Linked DNA regions of Homo sapiens. The protein of the gene in region 1 interacts with the protein of each later gene in a pairwise test. Each region holds a gene or a part of one and is shown on either strand. Other genes may lie near its edges.

Region 1 (3,825 bases):
TCTTATGTGTAGTAAGGTTTGAGGACTCATTAAAGGCTTTGCCACACACTTCACATTTGTAGGGTTTCTCTCCAGTATGAATTCTTTTATGTTTAGTAAGGGTTGAGGACCAATTAAAGCCTTTGCCACATTCTTCACATTTGTAAGATTTTTCTCCAGTATGAATTATCTTATGTTTAGTAAGGTATGAGAATCGATTAAAAGCTTTGTCACATTCCTCACATTTGTAGGGTTTCTCTCCAGCATGAATGAACTTATGTGTACTAAGGGTTGAAGACTGGTTAAAAGCTTTGCCACATTCTTCACATTTGTAGGGCTTCTCTCCAGTATGAATTATCTTATGTGTAGTAAGGTGTGAGGACCGGTTGAAGGCTTTGCCACATTCTTCACATCTATATGGTTTCTCCCCAGTATGAATTATCTTATGTGTAGTAAGGGTTGAGGACTGCTTAAAAGCTTTGCCACATTCTTCACATTTGAAGGGTTTCTCTCCAGTATGAATTCTCTTGTGTCTAGTAAGGGTTGAGAACCATTTAAAAGCTTTGCCACATTCTTCACATTGGTAAGAATTCTCTCTAATATGAATTCTTTTATGTTGACTTAGGTGTAAAAGCATGCAAAATGATTTGCCACATTTTTTACATTTGAAAGGTTTCTTTCCAGTATGTCTTGTCTTATGTCTATTTGCATTTAAAAATTTATGAAAGACTTTCACATATTTATCACATGGAAATATTTTGCTCTGGGTAGTTGTCAAACACTGGTTTAGCTCATTATAACCTTCTTTGTGCACCTTATACTCATCTACACTTGCGGAGCCTTTTCTTAACTGTAAATTCTCATGTTCACATTTGCCATATCTTCTCAGTATTACTTGTTGAAAAGAATCTTTTATGTCTTGCTCTGGCCAAAGGTCTTTGGTAAAATAAGAACACATAGCTGAAAGAAATACAAACAACAAATTATTCAACTTACTAGACTCTGATAAACATACTTTACAAATCTAACCTACATTATACAAACTACATAAACAAGATGCCATAATAAAATACCATAGGCCCTAAATCCTTCATAGACATATAAATCTAATAAAAATATACTGACCAAAATATATTTGAGGACAACTTATAAACAAGTGTGTAAAGTTCCCCAGGTGAGCACACAGGTGAGTACACAGGAATGCAAAGACACAGAAGAAAAAGAAAAGTCTGTTACATTTACCCAACACAGTTCTTCCTACTCAACAATACAACATAGTGCCTTTCAAAGTAAATTGCTAACTTTTCGTTTCTTTTTTAATAAACAAGTAAAACACTGGCACATACATCTATATTACTTGCTTCTAGGGGCCCTTCCAGAAACTGGTCTCCCATAACATAAAGTGCTGAAAGAAATGGTGGTATATTTTGGAATTACAGTTTACTTCTGCTGAGACCAAAGGTAAATGTTACAGCAACAGAGAGACTGCAGTACCACAGACAGGGAACAGATACAGCAAATGACTGCTGATTAAGATGAAACAGAAACTCCTTTAACTAAAAAATAAACACAAAATTTTAGACAAGACACATTCAAAGAACATGTTTGAGAGTCTCACAGGATCTCAAACCAAGATAATTGTTTTCAGACTATGCCAGGACAAAGCTACATTATAAACAATGTGACAGGTAGCTATATTTAATGTCCAAATATTAATCAAAGATTACAATGAATACAAAATAGGGCAAAATCGCTCCACCAAAATTATAAGATTTTCAGAAAGAAACCATAAAAAAGATGTATACATTAATTTTAAAAATTTAAAATAAATTGAATACTCAATGAGTAAAATAAGGACACAGACAACTATAGAAAATCAGAAAAAATGAGAATAACAAAAATATTTAAAATATCCAAAAACAGAAATTGTAAAGGAAAATATAACTAAAAAATTCTGAAAGAAAAAATAATGTCAAAATGAAGAAGCTCAACAAATACACTAGGATACACATAAAGATATTTATAACAAACACATATATAAGCACAATTTCGAAAGTCACAGACAAGAAGAGAATGGAGCTGCAAGATAAAAACGACATGTCATTTACAAGCATAGTCTTATGAGATAGCCGGTGAACTGTCAACAAAAACTTTGCAGGCCAGAAGGAAACTGTGTGATATAGTCAAAGTCCTGAAAAAAATAGCTATAAAGTGAGAATAATACCATCAGCATATCTGTCCTTCCAAGTAAAAAGAAAAAAAACCTTTAAAAATAACCAAATACTGAAAAAGTACATTGGCTTTTCATATGCCTTACATATAAAAGATGCTGAAAACCGTTGCTGCTACTGAAAATAACATGATTCAACAAAACAACACATCATATAAAAGACATTATTCTCTGGGAAAAAAAATGCACATACACAAAAATGGAATTTCTTAGCATTATAATAATAGTGCAAAAAATATTAATTATTCTCTAAAATTTGAAAGGTACAAGAATAGAAATCATTATAAACATTTGTTAGCAAATATACAACATAAAATATACAATTAGCAACATCAATGACAAATTTGAAGGCAGATATAATGAGAAAAAATTTTTGGATGCAACTGAAGTTCTTTTTTTTTTTTTTTTCTTTTGATATGGAGTCTCACTCTGTCGCCAGGCTGGATGGTGCAATCTTAGCTCACGGCAACATCCGCCTCCTGGGTTCAAGTGATTCTCTTGCCTCAGCCTCCCGAGTAGCTGGGACTACAGGTGTGCACCACCATGCCCAGCTAATTTTTGTATTTTTAGTAGAGATAGGGTTTCACCATATTGGCCAGGGTGGTCTCGATCTCTTGATCTTGTGATCTGCCTGCCTCGGCCTCCCAAAGTGCTGGGAATATAGGTGTGAGCCACGACACCTGGCCTGAAGTTCATTTTTTACCAGATTAAAATACATTGTTGTATCTTTTAGAGGTTTTATATAATCCCCAAGGTAACCCCAAGAATACGTTTGCGTAAGTACACAAAACAAATGAGAAAGAAGTAAAAGCATACCAAGATAAGTACAACAAAGACACAAAGACAGAAAAAGAGAAAATGAGGAACAAAGATACAAGAAGCAAATACAACAATTAACAAAATAACAATAGTAAGTCTGCATAAGTGGAGAAAAATAAAATTCTTTTCAGACAAGCAAATGCTGAGGGAGCACATCACCACCAGGCCTGCCTTGCTAGAGCTCCTGAAAGAAGCACTAAGGTTAAGAAGAAAAAACCATTACCAGCCATTGCAAAAACACACTGAAGTACAAAGATCAATTATGCTATAAAACAACTACATCAACAACTCTGCAAAATAAGCAGCTAGCACTACTTGGACAGAATCAAAATCACACATAAAAATACTAACCTTAAATGTAATAGGCTGAATACCTCAACTGAAAGACACAGAAGGGCAAGCTGGATAAAGAGTCATGACACAGTTTGGGACCAGCCTGACCAACATAGTGAAACCCCATCTCTACTAAAAATACAAAAAATTAGCTGGGTGTGGTGGTGGGCGCCTGTAATCCCAGCTACTCAAAATCCCGCAACTACAACGAAACTGAACAACCTACTCCTGAATGAATTTCCTGAATGAACAACTTGCTCCTCTTTATTTCTGGGTAAATAATACAACTAAATCAGAAATCAAAAAATTATTTGAAACCAATGAGAATGAAGAGACAATGTAGCCGGGCGTGGTGGCTCACACATGTAATCCCAGCACTTTGGGAGGCTGAGGCGGACAGATCACCTGAGGTCGGGAGTTCGAGACCAGCCTGACCAATATGGTGAAACCCCGTCTCTACTAAA
Region 2 (3,825 bases), on another chromosome or scaffold:
GGAGGTATTGGATTAAATAAACTGTGTGTGTGTATATGTGTGTTTTCTGCAGTGAAAACACTTATTTTACAACAGTAATCTTTATTTTAGGTCAACATTCAAACATACAAGAAATGTGTTGTTACAATTAAAATTTTTTTAAAAAGTAGTGGAGCATCATCTTCATCCCATCCCTCTTAAGCCCTGACTTGAACACCCTAAGAAACTTCTTGAATTATTCTGGGCTGGCCGCACACCTGTAATTCCAGCACTTTGGGAGGCCAAGGCAGGGGGATCACTTGAGGCCAAGAATTCGATACCAGCCTGGGCAACATAGCAAGACCCCCGTCTCTACAAAAGTAAGAAATTAGCTGGGCATGGTGGCACATGGCTGTAGTGCTAGCTACTCAGGAGGCTGAGGCAGGAGGATTGCTTGGGCTCAGGAATTCAAGGTTACTGTGAGCTATGTTTGTGCCACTGCACTCCAGCCTGAACAACAGAGTGAGAGCCTATCTCTAAAAAATAAAAAATTGGGGGAAACTATTGAATTATTTCATAGCTTTGTATTTTAAATTGTTTTATCTTTTAATTTTGACATAATTTTAGACTTGCAAAATAGTACAAATAATTTGTATATACCCTTTACTCAGATTCTCCAAATGTTAACTTCCTACATAAACACAATGCAATGATCAAAATCAGGAAATAACATCGATATAGTACTGTTACCCAACCTACAGACCTTATTTCAGTTTCACCAGTTGTCTCAATGATGTCCTTTTTCTGGTTCAGGATCAAATCCAGAATGCAATGTTGTATTTATTGTCATGTCTCTTAAGTCTCCTTTAATCTGAAATAGTTCCTCAGTCTTTGTTGTTCATGCCCTTGATGCTTTTGAAGAACACTGTCAGTTATTTTATAAAATATTTCTTAATTTGGGTTTGTCTGATATTTTCTCATGGTTAAATCCAGGTCATGCCTTTTTGGCAAGAGTACCACAGAAATGATTTTGTGCCCCCAGTGCATCATATCAGGAGACACTTATTATTGACTTATTCCATTACTGGTGATAATTAATTTTGATCATTTAAGTTGGTGCCTGCAAGGTTTCTCTGCTATAATGTTATAGGTTATACAAATATCCTGTTTCTTTATACTTTTGCCACCTAATTTTAGCACCCACTGTTGATTCTTGCCTGAAACAGTTACTACCATAGTATTTGCTAAATGGCAATTTTTAATTTTCATATAGATTTATTTCATGTATAATAATCAGGGTCCATATAGGAAATTAAGAGAGATTACTAAAATTATATTGCTGGTTTGAAATCTCACTGGGCATTCATGTGCTACTTCACTAAAGCCATTTTATATTCTTCTGTTTTTAAATCAAACATTGTCGCTCATCTCACACCATTCAGGGATCAGTCTTCTTTTTTCTTCCTATTCTACCAAAAAGGAAACTATAGTAAGATTGTGACTTTAATTTCACAAGTTTGGCCATCTTGTCTCCTGGAAGTTTGGTGTCTGGCTATCTGTTGGCAGGAGAAAAATCTGTCCTGAAGGGGGATAGGTCTTTCCTGTCTGTTCCATAATGAGCTCTGGTAATAAAATGCTCATATCCTTGCCTTAAAACCCAAACATTGGCCTTCTTACTTAAGATTGATGTCTGGGGAAGTCTTTAAGTTTCCTCATTAGAAACTTACTGGAAATGCTGACACGGATTTTATGCCTTTTATTTTCAGCCTGCCACAGTGACTCAGGTCACTCAAGGAACTATCCGACCAGCTGCCAACTTCGATGCTATAAGAGATGCAGAAATTCTTCGTAAGGCAATGAAGGGTTTTGGTAAGGAAAACAAATTTTTGTCTTTTTTAATAAGTTAAAGTAATCAGTTCTAAAGTAAAAATAAACCTTATCTCATAAACCCAAGTTTATGTGTCAGCCTGGGTGCGCATACCTGGATTTAATCTGATGTCTAGTGCCTTGTAAGCATTCTAAGAGATGACCTCAGGCTGGGTGTGGTGGCTTACACCTGTAGTCCCAGCACTTTAGGAGGCCGAGGTGGGCAGATCACCTGAGTTCAAGACCAGCCTGGCCAACATGGCGAAACTCCATCTGTACTAAAAATAAAAAGTAAAATAGTTGGGCATGGTGATGCATGCCTGTAATCCCAGCTTCACGGGAAGCTGAGGCAGGAGAATTGCTTGAACCTGGGAGGTGGAGATTGCAGTCAGCCTAGATCACACCATTGCACTTGCACCCCCAGTCTGGGTGACAAACTCCGTCTCAAAAAAAAAAAAAAAAAAAAAAGATGACCTCAAGCAGCACCTAGCATGTACTTTGTCCTTACTTAAACATGTGTGGTTCTTCCAGGGACAGATGAGCAGGCAATTGTGGATGTGGTGGCCAACCGTTCCAATGATCAGAGGCAAAAAATTAAAGCAGCATTTAAGACCTCCTATGGCAAGGTATGTTTTTCTTTCCTGGAATGAGCACCAGCAGTGGCTGGTAGACTCTGCATTCATGTCAGATTGGATACTATATTTTGATTAGTACCTGTGGTGCAAAAGAGGGACAACTAGACTTTAGAGACCTCAAGGGTACTGTATTCCCTATTTCTGTTTTTTGTTTTGTTTTGTTTTGAGATGAAGTCTCGCACCAACATCCAGGCTGGAGTGCAATGGTGCGATCTCAGCTCACTGCCGTCTTTGCTTCCCGAGTTCAAGCAATTCTCCTGCCTCAGCCTCCTGAGTAGCTGGGACTACAGGTGCACAGCATCATGCCTGGCTAATTTTTGTATTTTTAGTAGAGACAGAGTTTCACCATGTTGGCCAGGCTGGTCTCTAACTCCTGACCTCAAGTGATCCGCCTGCCTCAGCCTCCCAAAGTGCTGGGATTACAGGCGTGAGCCACCATGCCTGGCCTATTTCTCTTAAAAGGCTTTTTCATTCTAGAGTAGTCCTTGATCTCATAATCATACCTTACCCCAGTCACATATGTGATAGACATTCAGTAGAAAGTAGATCACAACTACAATCATGATCAAGAGGATGGTTCTCAGTCTTCTGCCTGTTACAGTGGGATTCAAGGCTTATTACATAGCCCTTGTTTATTCTTGGTCCTGGGCATCGCCTTCTGCTTCTCTCCCTTTCTCTAAACGTGTCCTATGTTAAAATTATATGGACTGAGCGTGGTGGCTTACGCCTGTAATCCCAGCACTTTGGGAGGCCAAAGCAGGAGAATTTCTTGAGGCCAGGAGTTCAGGACCAGCCTGGGCAACATAGGGAGACTTCATTTCCAACAACGATGACAACAAATTATATTAGCTGGGCGTGGTGGCGTGTGTCCATAGTCCCAGCTGCTTGGGAGGCTGAGGTAGAAAGATTGCTTGAGCCCAGGAAGTCAGGCTGTTAGTGAGCTGTGATTGTGTTACTGCACTGTAGCCTAGGTGACAGAACAAGACGCTGTCTCAAAAAAAAATAATATGGAAATGCTTGCCATTCTCTGTACACGCCATGATCTTTTATGCTTCTGTGTTGTGTACATGCCATTCTCCTGGCCTTGAATACCTTTTCTTTTTTTCATGGCAAACTTCTTTAAGATTTGGCTTAAATATCAGCTACTCTGAAGTTTCTTTCATTAGTCTGGACAGAATTTAGCTGCTTCTTAATACTGTAGTCCCATAGCACTTTGTAAAACCTCTGTTATTACTAATCTCACGGCCCACCCCCAAAAACTGAGCTCCCATAGGACAAACCATGGTCATAGTCATCTTTGTATTACAGTACCAAGTATATAATGGCAAGTAGCCACTTAGTACTTGTTGAATGGATGATCAGTTTC

What was found.
Region 2: the proteins of ZNF431 (region 1) and ANXA7 interact in a two-hybrid assay, tested with the Homo sapiens proteins (one large-scale study listed by BioGRID and IntAct).

Annotation. Positions count from the first base shown.
Region 1 is NC_000019.10:21,179,737-21,183,561, reverse strand, and holds part of ZNF431 (zinc finger protein 431), read right to left. Parts: intron 940-3,825; coding exon 1-939. UniProt on the Homo sapiens protein: Sequence-specific DNA binding transcriptional repressor. Represses target gene transcription by recruiting HDAC1 and HDAC2 histone deacetylases. Acts as a specific transcriptional repressor for PTCH1 during embryonic development.
Region 2 is NC_000010.11:73,386,314-73,390,138, reverse strand, and holds part of ANXA7 (annexin A7), read left to right. Parts: intron 1-1,724; coding exon 1,725-1,827; intron 1,828-2,355; coding exon 2,356-2,450; intron 2,451-3,825. UniProt on the Homo sapiens protein: Calcium/phospholipid-binding protein which promotes membrane fusion and is involved in exocytosis.